Linked DNA regions of Homo sapiens: regions 2 and 3 are each reported to be linked to region 1. The links are microRNA targets in miRTarBase. Many come from high-throughput screens and were not tested one by one. Region 1 holds a microRNA gene; each other region holds the end of a gene's coding sequence.
The links. Region 1 holds the annotated microRNA hsa-miR-7106-3p (AGCUCCCUGAAUCCCUGUCCCAG, at 3,638-3,660, shown strand). A microRNA usually pairs through its seed, bases 2 to 8, with sites in the 3' UTR of a target mRNA and lowers its output. Matches are read on the target gene's strand: a 7mer-m8 pairs with bases 2 to 8, a 7mer-A1 pairs with bases 2 to 7 and ends in A, and an 8mer does both.

Region 2: miRTarBase lists DCDC2 as a target of hsa-miR-7106-3p. Seed matches in the 3' UTR shown: 7mer-A1 at 3,203-3,209.
Region 3: the mRNA of CXXC5 is a reported target of hsa-miR-7106-3p. Seed matches in the 3' UTR shown: 7mer-m8 at 887-893 and 8mer at 906-913.

Annotation. Positions count from the first base shown.
Region 1 is chr12:113,157,700-113,162,772 of GRCh38, reverse strand. MIR7106 (microRNA 7106) reads left to right here and starts at 3,596; the gene lies at 3,596-3,660. It overlaps CFAP73 (cilia and flagella associated protein 73), which reads right to left. Exons shown (of 8, transcript NM_001144872.3): 8 at 3,497-4,072. DDX54 (DEAD-box helicase 54) reads left to right here. Exons shown (of 20, transcript NM_024072.4): 18 at 776-880; 19 at 1,391-1,503; 20 at 3,664-5,073. The coding sequence ends at 3,896.
Region 2 is chr6:24,169,965-24,175,024 of GRCh38, forward strand. It overlaps DCDC2 (doublecortin domain containing 2), which reads right to left. Exons shown (of 10, transcript NM_016356.5): 10 at 1,791-4,870. The coding sequence ends at 4,766. Among named protein-coding and RNA genes, the nearest start is that of NRSN1, 46 kb to the left of the region's middle.
Region 3 is chr5:139,682,602-139,687,661 of GRCh38, forward strand. CXXC5 (CXXC finger protein 5) reads left to right here. Exons shown (of 3, transcript NM_016463.9): 3 at 262-1,281. The coding sequence ends at 306. Among named protein-coding and RNA genes, the nearest start is that of CXXC5-AS1, 35 kb to the left of the region's middle. RefSeq lists an enhancer at 2,343-2,997.

The DNA of each region.
Region 1 (5,073 bases):
AGTGAGCTGCCCCTCCAGGCCCAGGGTGAGTGAGAGAGTGAGCTGCCCCTCCATGCCTGGGGTGAGTGAGCGAGTGAGCCTCCCCTACCTCCATTCCCTGAAGTGAGTGAGCGAGTGAGCCGCCCCTCCATTCCCTGGGGTGAGTGAGCGAGTGAGCCACCCCTCCAGGCCCAGGGTGAGTGATCGAGTGAGCTGCCCTCCATGCCAGCAGGCAGGGTGAGCTCCCTGAAGTCCTCACTCCCATCTGATCCTGCACAGCCCAGATTATGGCCTGGCTGTCCCCCATGTGACCACTCACAGCAGGTGTGATGGCCCCTGGCTGTGCTGTCCCCTTGATTTGATCACACACCACAGAGATCTTGACCCCGTCTATTCTTTTTGCTGGCAAGTCTTTCTAGACAGGGCTCAGGACCCATTCGTTCAGGACTCTAGCGTCTGGAGAGTGTATGTGACTCAACCCAGGGTCACAGCTGGGTAGGGGGAGGGGATTGGAAACCCTCCAGGAGGCCCTTGTCCCTGAGCCAGGCCCCAGTGCTGGCGGCAGTCCTCTGACCTCCGCACTCCCTTTTGAGACCTGGACTGCAGGGAGAGGTGAGGAGGGATAGGGAAGAAGCCTTTATTGAGCGCCAACTGCATGCCAGACATGGCTGCACTGCTTTCCTTTAATGCTCCAACAACCTGACAAGAGGGTCGGGTGAGGAGACAGGCCCCAAGCGGCAGCCGGCACTCCAAGGGTTTCCCTCCACGGCAGCCGTCCCAACTCCCTCTCCTGCAGGGACCGTAAGAAGAAGCGGTTTGTGGGACAGTCAGGACAGGAAGACAAGAAGAAGATTAAGACAGAGAGCGGCCGCTACATCAGCAGCTCCTACAAGCGAGACCTGTATCCTGAGGGGCGTGGCTGGGGAGGGGCGGGGCCGAGGAGCTTCAGCAGGAGCAGCTTCAATTAAGTGGAACCTGGGGGCGGGGGCGGGGGCGGGGAGGAGGGGGCGGGGCTGAGCGGCTTAAGCAGCCGCATCTCCAATAGATGGGACCTGGTGCTGGGGGCGGGGCCGAGCAGCTTCAGCAGCAGCATCTCGAACTAGTGGGACCTGTGCTGGGGGCGGGGCCCAGCAGCTTCAGCAGCAGCATCTCCAGTAAGTGGGGCCTGTGCTGGGGGCGGGCCCAGCAGCTTCAGCAGCGGCATCTCCAATAAGTGGGACCTGGTGCTGGGGGCGGGGCCGAGCAGCTTCAGCAACAGCATCTCCAATAAGTGGGACCTGTGTGCTGGGGGCGGGGCCGAGCAGCTTCAGCTGCGGCTGGGATAACGGAACTCTGTCTGCTGGGGCAGTGTGGGGAGGAGCCTTCTCCCATCCCAGGGGCTTCACGCAGCTTCCTTAACGAGGTTTCCCAGCTATCAGAAGTGGAAACAGAAACAGAAAATTGATGATCGTGACTCGGACGAAGAAGGGGCATCTGACCGGCGAGGCCCAGAGCGAAGAGGTGGGAAGCGAGACCGTGGCCAAGGTGAGAGCCAGGGTGGGGAGTGTGGGTGCACAGGTAGGCAGAGCAGTTGTGGTCAGATTAGGGTAACGCTGAGGCACAGGTGCAGGGGCTACTGCAGAGCCCCAGAGCTGGGTGTGTTGGGGTATGCTGCCAAAACCCTGGGTCCCTCCATGATCCCCCCCACCCAACCCCCACACCCACAGTTTCCCCCTTCCTACTGTCCCGGCCTCTGATGGTCACGAGCACCGCCTGACAGGCGCTGGGAAGTGCCATGCCCCTCAGGTGCCTTGTCCCCGACCCCCTTCCACTTCACAGATGAAGCTACAGGGATAACTTCTGGTAGATGCCCTGTTCACCTAATTAAGCCGATTGTGTAAAATCCTAGAGAACCCGGGAGGTGGAACCTTGTGCAAATGCAGGCCATTTTCACCTGCAAAAATGGCATTTGCATGTGGTTCGACCTGACAGTGAGCATGAATTGATTCCCTGTGGCATCCTTAGGAGTGACGTTCTTTTTAGCAATGCTGTGGGGAAGTTCATGTCACCAAAGACGCAGTCAGAAGCAGCTTTGGTTCTGGGAGGAGGCGATCACAGGGGATGTTGAGGAAGATACTTCCTTGAAATGTGGGTTGGCAAGTGGTACATTTGGTCATCTGAGGACTTGGACCTCTTTGATCTGGCCTGGGTCCCTCAGCCAGTAACAAGCTAAGGTGGATTTGAAGCCGGCTCTGTCTGCCAGAGCCTGTGCTTAAGGGCTGTTATCAGGGAGGGGCTCCCGCTTGCTGGGTGCAGGCAGGCTCTGTCCTGGAAGGCCACACATGACCTGGGAGGCAAGGTGACTGCGAATACCCATTTTACAGGCCAGGAAACAGGTGCCTTATGAGGGCTATGACTGAACCTGGGTCACCCAGCTGCCCAAGGCTCCCACCTGGAGTCTTCCCTGGGGAGAGGGGAGTTTGGGACCATGTCTTGGGTCTCTCTCAGATGGCCTTAGCCCCTGCTTGTGTCCCTCCACCTCCTGGGGCTGGTCACTGCCTCCCCTGGGTGTCTCTGTGAGCCTGCGTGCATTTGCCTGGGCCTGTTCTCTGTGGCTCCTCCCTCTCCAGCTCTCCCATCTGTGGGAGTGTCTCCTTGTCAGCATGGCTGGGTGGGGACCACCCACACCTCACTTCTCAGCCTGTTTTTACCTAGGTGAAACAGCAGCTTCTGCTGCGAGCATTGCCGTGCAGTGGGCGTGCAGGGGCTGGGGAGACGGGGGCGACCTGTGGGCTTTGGGAAAAAGCAGCTGTTCTTCCTTTGCTGTCCTCATTGGAGGTGATAGGTCCTGCGAGGCACCCTGGCTCCATTGGAGACAGCTGGGACCACCTTAATGGTCATCCCTCTAGGAGCCCTGGGGAGGCTGCTGTTATGAATGGGGAAGAGGAGGAGGAGGACACAGGGCTTAGTGGGAGCCAGGGAGGGTGGTGCTTGCCTCCCGGAGAACTAGAAGAATGGACTACCTGATGCCCACCTGTGGGGCTGGGGCAGGGTCGCTGACCTCTGCTGCTGCTGCTGCTTTGCTGTGTGATCTCAGATAAGTCCCTCTCCCTCTCTGGCCTTCTTTGATTCCTCTCCCACCTAAAGGAAGGTTCATCTACACTCTTTTTTCATCTAACAAGCCTAGAGCATGGTGTCCATGGAGACAGAGGCTGAGGTCTGTATCGGTTACTATGGGGGGCCTCAGAGCCTGGCGTGCCGTAGGTGTGCTGTGGAGACATACACTCCTTGGTTGGAGAATTTTTAATAGTAACAGTCATGCCCAAAAGGCTCCCACTATGGGACAGGCCTTGAAATTCTGACCACTTTACACCATGGAAATGCATTTACTCTTCACCCATGAGGGAGGTGCTGTGATTTATAATTCATAGATGGGGAAACTGAGGCACAGAGCCGTTAACTTCTTGCCCACGGTCCAAGAGGTCACAGCTGGGATTTGAACCCCAGCGGTTCTGGCCCCGTGTTATTGACCACTCCATGAGGCTGCCTAAAACTTTATTAGCCACCTACTGTGTACAGACACTGGGCCACAGCAATAAGCACAGAACAGGAGTAGGGGCAGGGGAGGAGTCTGCAAGCTTCTGGGAGGAGGGGATCTTGGGAGTGATCCCAACAGCTGAGCTCCCTGAATCCCTGTCCCAGCAGGTGCATCCCGGCCCCACGCCCCAGGCACCCCTGCAGGCCGAGTCCGCCCGGAACTCAAGACCAAGCAGCAGATCCTGAAGCAGCGGCGCCGGGCCCAGAAGCTGCACTTCCTGCAGCGTGGTGGCCTCAAGCAGCTCTCTGCCCGCAACCGCCGCCGCGTCCAGGAGCTGCAGCAGGGCGCCTTCGGCCGGGGTGCCCGCTCCAAGAAGGGCAAGATGCGGAAGAGGATGTGAGGACCAGGACCCAGCCCCGTGGCTCCTTGATTGGCCTTAGGGTGGGCATCAGCAGACGTTCCCGTGCACCACTGTGTGCCTGGCCCTGTGCTGGGCACTGGGGGCACTCCCTGCAGGAGCCATCATCTGTGAAAAGGAGCACTGTATGGCCACAGAAGGGCAGCAGCTGCGTCAGCCTAAGACAGAGACATTTGAACAGGGCCTTGAAGGGTGTGCAGGAGTTCGCCAGCAAAGCCAGGCAGGCCAAGACTTGAGTTGGCAACTCAGCTGCTGCTGCTTCCATGTGTTCTGGGTTCAGAGGTCATGGCTGCACCGGTCAGAGCCCTGAGTGCCTCAGGGTTTGGCAATGGAATTTTTAATGTAATAAATCTTTATTGAGCACTGCTGGTGGCCAGGAGTGCGGTCTACTTGGGGAACTGGAATGGAGAGACCCAGGTACTAAAATCCCAGCTAACGTGGCAGAGGAGTTGCGGGTCTCCTGAGGGTGAGTTCTGCTGCCTTGTCCATTTAGCGATGAGGAAAGTGAAGCTCAGAGCACAAACCAGGTGCCAGAGGCGGGAGTTGGTCCCCCTTCCTCCCACTGGACATGGTTGCAGCTGGGAGTGGGCTGGGGGAGGGGAACAGGATGCCCAGCCCAGGGGGCAAGGACACAGCTGCTCCCCTCTGGCTATGAAGAGGTTAACGCGGCCCCTCCACACCTGGAGGTCAGAACCTGGCCTGTCCTCTGTCTTCTTGCCACCCACCCCCTGTTTGAGGTTCTGAGAAGGTCAAGGGCAGCCCCAGCAGCTGGATTCTCAGGCTGGGCCCCTCACCTGGCAGAGTCCATAGTGGAGGGGGCCTTGGTGATCTCTCATCTAGCATGGACCCTGTTCTGAGACCTGACAAAGAGTTTTTTTTCATGCCCCAACCACCCTGGCAGGGAGGGCCTGGTCTGATCTCATTTTAGAGGCAGTTGCCCCACACATAGCCCCTTGACCTTCCCATCACCTCCTCATCAGGGCCTGCATTTATGGAGTGCTTGCTATGTGCCCCTCATGGCAGGCCCACAGCACTCTGAACAGGCACAGCCCTCCCATCTTCCCAATGAGGAAACGGATTCAGGAAGAGCCACTCAGTCCACACCCCATTGGAAATGTGGGCCCTCCTATCTCAGGGTCTCTCAGGGGTTCCCTCTCCC
Region 2 (5,060 bases), not on the chromosome of region 1:
AGAAAAAACACTGAAGCAAAAGACAAAACAGGCTTTCTCGAAAATTCTCCTAAGAATGACTACAATCATTCCCTCTTTCCATATGTCATTGCATTCGTGACAATAAATGAAACAAACTATATCGTTCAAGCTGATGAAACTACAGAGAATTCATCTGGTCCCATTCTTAGAGTAAAGCTGAAGTCGTTGTTGGCGTTAAGTCAACAGAGCTCCACTGGTTACACCTCCTCATTTTATAAATGCCTTATGGTAATCCAGGCATTTTTAAAAACTGTCCTAACTCCCCATCTCCTACAGGATGTTATGCCTCTTCAAAAAACAGTATCTTTTTCCTTATCAACATAAGGGAACACTCTTGTATTCCCCATTCATGTCACTCAAACTTCATGGGAGGAAATATACAAATTTCATGTAGGGAGAACAAAAATCAGTCCCATCTAAATGTCCCGATATGTTTTAAAGAGGAAAAATCTTGTGGTATTTACAAAAATGATATTTAATGACAAAGAACTGTATGTGTTCATCATCTTAGAGTAACAGACTAACCTTTTAAAAATGGTTTCATTCCTGAAGAATGCCAAAATGCTTCCGCACTGAACCTGAACATTATATAAACTAATGGACCAATAAGTCAGTCTTTCATTCTATTTGTGATACCCCGGCTAACTGGTATGAAAAAGAGTCCTGACACATCTATGTAAATCACACATGCACACACATGGTCACAAACAGTAATAACAGAATCTGTATTGGTATAAAAGAATCTACACCTGAAATGTATCGTGCTTAAGGTTGATGGAAAAGAACCATGCTCTGTAGTTACTTCAGGAAAACAAGATATGTCTTGGTTTCTGTTTTGGTTTATGTGATATATCACATTTTAAAAACCGGATTTGTTTCAACACCTCCCTAGAATACATTTTTCATTGACATGCTGGTTTCTTATTTGGAGAAGAATTTTAAATCTCTTAAAGTCTTAGGAAATCAAGATTTAAAGCACCATAATATATATCATTTCTTAGCATTTCCTCTCACGTTTTAACTCATTGCTTCTCTCAACTTCACCCAAAAGAGCCTTGTTTTATTAATAACGCTGTGCCTCAGGAGGCCTTTTTAATGTTTTAAAGTGTGTGAGTGCATCTGTATAAGTATTTGATACATATCTATGTCTACATGCTATATTTCTCTTCAGATTGGCCACAGTTTCCATGTGATGCTTTCTGTTGATGAATTAATCTACTTTTTAAACTTTGCTTTTGCAAGGTTTGTTGAACAAAAAATGAAAGAAAGCTTCCTGTTGTCTTGCGGCCACTAATTTAAATGCACAGATTTTTTTCTAGGTGAATGAACTTTATCCTTTGTGTATAAGGTAGGTCATTCAATGACAATGTTTAGGATGTTAGTTTATGAGCTATAAATTGGAAGAGTTGGCAGGAATAATACCATATTAATATGGGTTCACAACTGTGAGCCTAGAGATATCTCACTCTGAACCACGTATGTATGGGATAGTTCTGTCTTCACACACCACATAGCAAGAATTCACACCTTTACAATAAAACAGGAGGCATGATAGCATCACACTTTTCCTATGAGTGTGGCAACCTAACATTCCCCCAAAAACATATAGGAAAAATGTCTTAAAAAAATAAAGTCATCCTAAGGTCATAGAGAAGAATAAGAAGTAAAAAGTTATTTTATGGTCATAGTATCGTATTTTATAAGTCAATGGGCACTCAATAGCTATTTTAACAGAAGTTAACCCAGGTAAAACACCCTTAGCCTCAAAATGACTTTTGTCAAAATCTTCTTTATTTGCTCTGTAAAACTCTTAATGCCCCAATTTTACTAACAAACCATTTGTTTACAAGTGTCTTAAAATCCAGATAAGTTTAACAAAGTGGTTTCATAAAACTATAAAAACTATGTATATAGCATCACAAAGAATTAACATATTAAAGCATTATATTGGTTATCACATAAAAGCATCATAAGTTTTTCGTAGCACTCTCTCTAGAAAACAGTACATGAAGCCAAACCAAGATCTTGTCTGTCCACTCACATAAAAGGTCCCAGGTCTGTCAATGAGTTTCATTTAATTTGGAGAGCCAGTCTGCCACGGAGACCACCATTCTCCACAGAGAAAACTGCCACATTTGTGAGGTGAATGAACTTTCAGCATTTATGTTAAAGTCATCTCTGAAGTGACATCCACAATTTTAATTCCAAGTGAATGGTTTTTTCCTTGGCTAGGCACCTTTTTTTAGTAACATGTTTGCAAAGTGTCTTAAAGTGATAAGTCGTTATTCATCCCCTCAAAGTAGGTCACAATTGTATCTTGTCAACAAGTGGTAAAATATGCACACACAAGGGATGAATATGTCCCCATTTTTAAGTTTTTTTGGTACAGTTATTGTGGCTTATTACCCCCTTGAAGTATATTTAAAATACCAAACGTTATTATTCATGTAAAATATCAATGTTGTGCTTCATTAAAATGACGCTTAAGGTGTTTCCTAAAACCTAAGTTTCATAATATAATGAATAAAAGGACAGGAAAAAAAGAAATATTTTTATTAGAGGAGGAAAAGAGAAAGAGAAACTCTCCATTGAAGAAACAAAAGAGAATCACCTTGATAATTAGTTATAATTTCTTACATTTAATCAGTTATTTTTAGAAACTATTTGAAATCATTAACTCCAGACCCAGTAATAGTGCACAAATTTAATATTAAAAGACCAACTGGGACCGGGTGCTGTGGCTCACACCTGTAATCCCAGCATTTTGGGATGCAAAGGCGGGCGGATCACCTGAGGTCAGGAGTTTGAGACCAGCCTGGCCAACATGGTGAAACATCTGTCTCTACAAAAAATACAAAAATTAGCCAGGTGTGGTGGCAGATGCCTGTAATCCCAGCTACTCGGGAGGCTCAGGTGCTTGAACCCAGGAGGCAGAGGTTGCAGTAAGCCAAGATCATGCCACTGCACCCAGCCTGGGCGACAAGAGCAAGACTTCATCTCAAAAAATAATAATAATAATAATAATAATAATAATAAAGATCAATTGGTCTATTTGCCTACCAACCCAAGATTGTTGCTTATAGCCCACAGTGCTTTATATCATCCCATTTGAAAAAGTAACGCTAGTAGAAAGCACAATTTAGATTTTACACCAGAAACATAGTACCCTGTTTCTAATTCATGCTCCCAGATCACTATATCCTTGTGTCATTATCTCTTCCAAATACTGTTACATTATCTCTCTGTTTACACTTCTGATCTGTGGAAAATACCAAAATCATATTAAGAAAAAACACATCTATTTTCTATAGTATTATTAAGTGCTTTATATAACTGCCAACTCTTTATTCCAAATGAAACCTGGAAGAGAAAAAATGTTTTAAACTTGTAATTGTGAATTTTAGAAAAGCACTAGAAGTTAAAATTTCAAGCTTACAACTTCCACATAATTAAAAATATATCCTTTAAGAAAAATATATTATTTCTATATTTATGGAAGAACATCTCTTAAGAATTCATAAAAAGGACGAAATTATGTTTTAATTATGTTTTTATGTTTTCCCCATACATACCTCACAAGGCAACTATAAATCAATTTAGTCAGTCCATGAAGTTGTGATTCAGGAATTGGTTTCATTATAATAACTTCTAAAGTTTTACAATTTCTATCAGATGCCTTCTAATTACAAAGAAATCTGCTTGAAATTCTAACTATATCATGCTAGGAAAAATAAATATTTGCTGATATCCCTAGGGCAAAAACATAGTAAAACAGTCTTAATAGAAATAAGGCAAAAAACAAGTTAAATTGAGCAGTCACAAACTCTTCATATAGTCTACTTTTTTCTTCCTAATACACTTTTATTTTTGTTGAAAACTATTTGAAAATAATTTAATCTTTGGAATAGCCAATATCAGGTTCTCTAATAACATAAGGGAGAAGAGAGAGATACTATTGGTAAAGATAGACTGGATCAGTGAAAATCCACAGGATTTCCATTATCTGCAAACCATACATCCAGGCTTTATAATATAACTGGGTGCTCCTTTACAATTCCTTCCTGAGTGTGCGCCATTGGAGCCACAAGCATGCAAGCCTGAAAGCATTTAAGTGACGGCATGGCGATACTAGTCACTAACACTCTGAACCAATGCTTCCTCCCACCAAAATGAACGCCTTGCTCTGTCTTTGTAGTTCAAAGGTGGATTTTGGCTAAGGAGGAAGAAAGAAAGGCATGTTAACAAGTCATGGACACATTTTGATCTACTGCCATCTCCAAATTATGTCTGAAAGTAAATCGCAATCTGTTCATTCAAGAGTTTATTGCTTTAAGAAAATAGTACATGCTTTCCTATTACCAGTTCTTTAAAATTCTACGCCTTCCTAGAGAAAAATTATTTAGAATAAACTGCCTTCTAAACTTATAATAAAGCGTACAATAAGAGTGATCCTATTTTTCATCCTTTACAAGTGGCAATTGTCTTCCAGTGCAAATTCTCCTCTGTCCGTCTTATTTAATATTTCTATATGACTTTTAAAACACATGCAATAAAAGTAAGTAATTATCCTTTAGTAGCCATTTAAAGTTATCTGGTCTTTCCACTAGGCTTCTAATGTTATAATTCGTAGGTAGTATTCGACCATAGTGTCACATTATATTCAGCAATAACTATGTGCTTATCTTTCAAGTATGATAACCCTTCATTTTTCTTGCGATCCATATACTCTCTTTTTAAAAATGTTCTAAGCCACGGCAGCATAGTCCTTGTTTTGTTGGTTGTTTTCATTTTCTTCTGGACTGGTAATTTTTACTTCTGGCCTTGGTGGTCTTTGAGGGTCTACATCAGCCTAGAAGAAAATAGATCAAAACAAAGGTATTCAGCTGTTTGGTTCACAAAGGTAATGACATTTATAAAGAAAAAATTACTCAAGATTCTATTTAATTATATAAATATTTAACTAAAAAGAGTTCCTGGGGTTCCCTTTGTTTTTTTGTCTATCATTACCCAGTGGACATACTGTTTTCTCAACACTTGTA
Region 3 (5,060 bases), not on the chromosome of region 1:
GGAAGGGACTTCTTCTCTGGAAGGAGGGTTCCTGGGCACAGTGGCTCAGGAGGCCTCAGAGTCCTCGGGGCCTTCCAGCAGCCCAGCAGGTCAAGCGCCTCCTTTGGCCTGGCTGGGGTGGCAGGAGCTCCGAGGGGTGGCTGCTCTTCCTCCATGCCTGTCCCTCCGCCATGAGGCCATCCATGGGGGAACGTCTTTGCTCCAGGCCTACCCGGACCCTGACTGAACTCTCTCCTTGTTTTTGTCTCCCGCCCCCGCCAGAAGGTGATGCTTCCGACGGGAGCCGCCTTCCGGTGGTTTCAGTGACGGCGGCGGAACCCAAAGCTGCCCTCTCCGTGCAATGTCACTGCTCGTGTGGTCTCCAGCAAGGGATTCGGGCGAAGACAAACGGATGCACCCGTCTTTAGAACCAAAAATATTCTCTCACAGATTTCATTCCTGTTTTTATATATATATTTTTTGTTGTCGTTTTAACATCTCCACGTCCCTAGCATAAAAAGAAAAAGAAAAAAATTTAAACTGCTTTTTCGGAAGAACAACAACAAAAAAGAGGTAAAGACGAATCTATAAAGTACCGAGACTTCCTGGGCAAAGAATGGACAATCAGTTTCCTTCCTGTGTCGATGTCGATGTTGTCTGTGCAGGAGATGCAGTTTTTGTGTAGAGAATGTAAATTTTCTGTAACCTTTTGAAATCTAGTTACTAATAAGCACTACTGTAATTTAGCACAGTTTAACTCCACCCTCATTTAAACTTCCTTTGATTCTTTCCGACCATGAAATAGTGCATAGTTTGCCTGGAGAATCCACTCACGTTCATAAAGAGAATGTTGATGGCGCCGTGTAGAAGCCGCTCTGTATCCATCCACGCGTGCAGAGCTGCCAGCAGGGAGCTCACAGAAGGGGAGGGAGCACCAGGCCAGCTGAGCTGCACCCACAGTCCCGAGACTGGGATCCCCCACCCCAACAGTGATTTTGGAAAAAAAAATGAAAGTTCTGTTCGTTTATCCATTGCGATCTGGGGAGCCCCATCTCGATATTTCCAATCCTGGCTACTTTTCTTAGAGAAAATAAGTCCTTTTTTTCTGGCCTTGCTAATGGCAACAGAAGAAAGGGCTTCTTTGCGTGGTCCCCTGCTGGTGGGGGTGGGTCCCCAGGGGGCCCCCTGCGGCCTGGGCCCCCCTGCCCACGGCCAGCTTCCTGCTGATGAACATGCTGTTTGTATTGTTTTAGGAAACCAGGCTGTTTTGTGAATAAAACGAATGCATGTTTGTGTCACGAAGCACCGCTGGCTTCTTGCTCTCCGGTTTTGGGGGGCTGACTTGGGGGCCGTTCCTGAGCAGGGATTGTCTGGGACCACCTGGAGGAGGAAGAAGGATGGCCCAGGGACATTTAGAATGGGAATTTCTTGGGGAAGAGAGGCCTCTGGATCCAGAATGGGGGAGAGCAGGAGCAACCAGCCCAGCAGACAGGAGGGAAAGGCTCTTAATCTGGAAGTCACTGCCTGGTTGCACCCCATGCCTCAGAACCTGGACCTCCAGGGACCTTCACTCACTTGGGGCCACCTCTGTTCACTCACCTAAGTTCATCAGGGCCTGATGAGTAAAGCAACCAGCACCACGAGGCAGGTGGGGGTAAGGCTGAGCTGCCTGTTCAGGGTCTTCTTTCTTTCTTTCTTACCTGGCAGGGATCTAGTGCTCCCGCAGCCACCAATGTCATTCTCCAGGGAATAGTTTCAGCTCGGCTTCGTGGGGACCTGGCTGTACACACACGCCTATTCCTCTTTAGGCCTGAGGGCTGCTAGGCTGAGTTACGGGGGTGTCCTTGGCTTTGACTGTCCCCACTCTCAGAGGGTTTGTTGGTACAAGGCTGCTGGGGACCTCAGAGGTCAAATGTCTGGGGAAGTCACCACACAGCCACATGGTCTGGGCCAGGGCAGCCTGAACAGGAAGGGGTGGCAGTGGCATGCCCCTCCCTGTACATCACAGAGGCCAACCTGAAGGAGGAGGCTTAGCCATCCACTGGGGGAGCGTTCTTCTCACCCAGCTGCTTTGAGCCTGGCTGAGATGGAGGCTAGACTTCAGGAAGGACTTCCTGACAGTGTTGGGCACTGGCTTCAGGTGGGTGAGAGCTGGAGCGATTTCTGAGGCTGAGTGGGCAGTGAGGTGGGGGAGATGGGCTATCTCTGCCATTGTCCTGAGAGGAGAAAGCAGCCATGTTGGGTGGGGGTGGCGCTGACCCCCAACCCCTTCCCAGGTGTCACAAGCTCCCTTCGAGCGCCAGGGCCTCAGCAGCCTGGCCTGGCACAGCGGGGGCAGGCAGGGGCGGTGGGAGGCAGCTTTCAACTTCAGCTCTGCCTGGGAAAAATTCCCTTTCATGTGGCTGCCTGTGATCTCTCCAGGCGGCTCTGCCGAAGGGGGGTGTCCAGCAGGGAGTAGGGGGAGGTGTTGCAGCTGGGGGGCACCCTCACCCCCAGCACAAGGCAAACAGCGGCACCTCCAGAACCTCGAGGAGGGTGGGGAGGGTCCTCCTGTGGGGAGTGGGGGGAGCCTGGCCAGCAGGGGGCACCGGGCAGGAGGCCCCTTCCTGCCTCCGCCCGCTGCTGGCAGCACACAGGCTGCAGATGGCCTCAGCCGGCCCTCGTTGGCACACCTACAGGTGTGGGGTGGACGGCTCTGTTGCCAGCCCAGAGGGGGTGCTGTGACTCAGCCGGCCTGTACCTTTCAGTGTGCCAACCCACAGCCCAGCGTGTCTCCTGAGCCCACTCCCCAGCACACGGCCGAAACTCAGAGCTCCTCACCTGTTCCAGCTTCACACTGCTTTGTGGAAATGGTAAGCCAGCCCCTCTGTTTGGAGGCCAGGGGTGGGGACAGCTGTGAGGCTGGCTGAAAACATGCTGAGGACTCAGTTACCTCATCTGGGAAACGGGACAATAATTGTTTCCCCCATAAAGTTGCCTGAGGATGAAATGCGATCACACTTGGGAAGGGCCTGACTTGCAAGCTCTGTCAATGGCAGCTGGTGTTGCTATTTTTAAACTATTATTCACCTAAATCTCACCAAGATGTCCCTCACCTTCTGCCTGGCTGTGTGTCCTCCCTGAAGCCCTGGCCACCCCCACCTCCCACCTCCCACTTCCCACCTCCGTAGAGTGACCCAGCCTCTGGCCCTTCCCCTACCTGGATGCAGCCCGACCCCAGCCTGCACCAGCTTTCTGTCTCTCTGGCTCACTCTCTGCATGTCCTGAAGGTCTCTTTCGGTCCCTGACGCTCCTGTGTCTTTGGGTCTCCATCTTTCCTGATCTCTAAGCCTCTCCGTGTCTCTGGGTCTCTGCCCCTCCTGTCTCTCCATCTCTGTATCTTGTACTCTGTCTGTTGCAGGCTCACCCCTGCTGTTCCCCAGCTGACGGAGACTTCCTTAGAGGCAGGCTCCCTGGCAGGGTTGTGTACCCAGCTCCCCTCCCCTCAGGTGCCCTCACCTCTCCTCTGCTACAGTTGGGAAACTGACTTCCTGGTGACCCAGGAGCCTTTCCTCCAGGTACCCTGTACCCTGACCTGGGTGATCTGGCATTTAGAGCCAGCTCTAGACACAGAACGGTGGGGGTTTGAGAGGCTGGGTGCACACACTGGGCTGGAGAGAAGTCCAGCCTCCAGGTAGCCCCTGCGTGGACGTGTGTGTGTGTGTGTGTGTGTGTGTGTGTGTGTGAGTGATGCTTTAAGGGCCTGACAATTGTGTGAGGCTTTGTGCAGTAATGTGGCTATGTGTGACATCGGGTGTGATATGCAAATGGGTTTGTGACAGTTTATTGGAGACTGAGATGTGAATGGGTTAGTGTATGTCAGTGGCCACACTTTGGAATGTTCTGTGACATTGCGTGTGTACTCTTGTGACATTGTACAGTTCTGTAACAGACCCAGTGTGATACCGGCTTGTACAACTGAATGTGTGACTTTGGGTGATTCTGTGTGAGTGTGTGACATTGAGTGATTCTATGTGAGTGTGTCACTTTGGGTTTACAACACACGTGGCATTGCGTGACCCTGTGGCAAAACTGGGTGGTTCAATAAGTGTGTGACTTTGTGTCTGTGTGGCCATCATGGATGTGGGCTGGGACTGACCAGGGATTGTGTGTGTGTGATGTCTCCGTGTGACTATAGTGTGACCCTGTGATGCTGCCTGCATAACCCTGGGTGTGTGGTCATGGCTTTGTGTCAGTGTGCACCTGTGATCCTCTCAGTGTTGCTGACACTATTGCCTTGTGTGTCTGCCTCCAGCACTTCCTGGGTCTCCGCCCTGAAAGCCTCTCTAGGGAGAGAGTGGGGGATCTGACAGCCCCTCTCACCTGCAGCCTGTGCCCTCGCATGGCCCTGAGGCCCAGTCTGGATGGGGGAGCTGGCGTGGGGGCAGCAGGCGCAGTTCCCACGGCCGCTGCGGCCCCTCTCCCAGCCCCATCACCACCGGCTTCAACTCCACAGAATATCCTGGCAACCCCGGCCTCTTTGTTCTCTGAGGCCGCCAAAGGCCTCCCCCAACCCCAGCCTGCCCAGCGCCTGCCAGGCGCCCCCTCCCCCGACAGCAGCCAGTCTTGGCCTGACCTAGTCTCTAGCTGCCTTTATCCCCCACCCAGACTGAGGCGCCTGTCCCATGCCCTGGACCTGACTCAGGACTCCAGACGAGGCCTTTGACCCTCTGCTCTGAGCTTGCTGTGGTTGCGCTGTGCAGGAAGAAGGAAGAAGGATAGGTCCTGTGGCTGTACTGGGTGATTGTGGGCCAGGAGCTGGGCTGTCTATACGAGTACTTCCCCTTGGCCCAAGGCTGGTTGGAGGCCCAGGGTTGGTTTCAGTTTGTCCAGTAAGTTTACTTCTTTGGCCCCCAAAAGTCATCAGGACAGAAATTATTACCCATTTTATTGGTAAGAAACTGAAGCCTAGAGAGGGTATGTGACTTCCCCTATAGCAAGAGCAAGATGGTAGCAGGGACCTGATTAGAACCCAGGCTCCTGGCTACCTTGAGAGAAAAATCAGGTACCTCCAAAAGAATGGAAAGGGGGCCTGGGAGTCT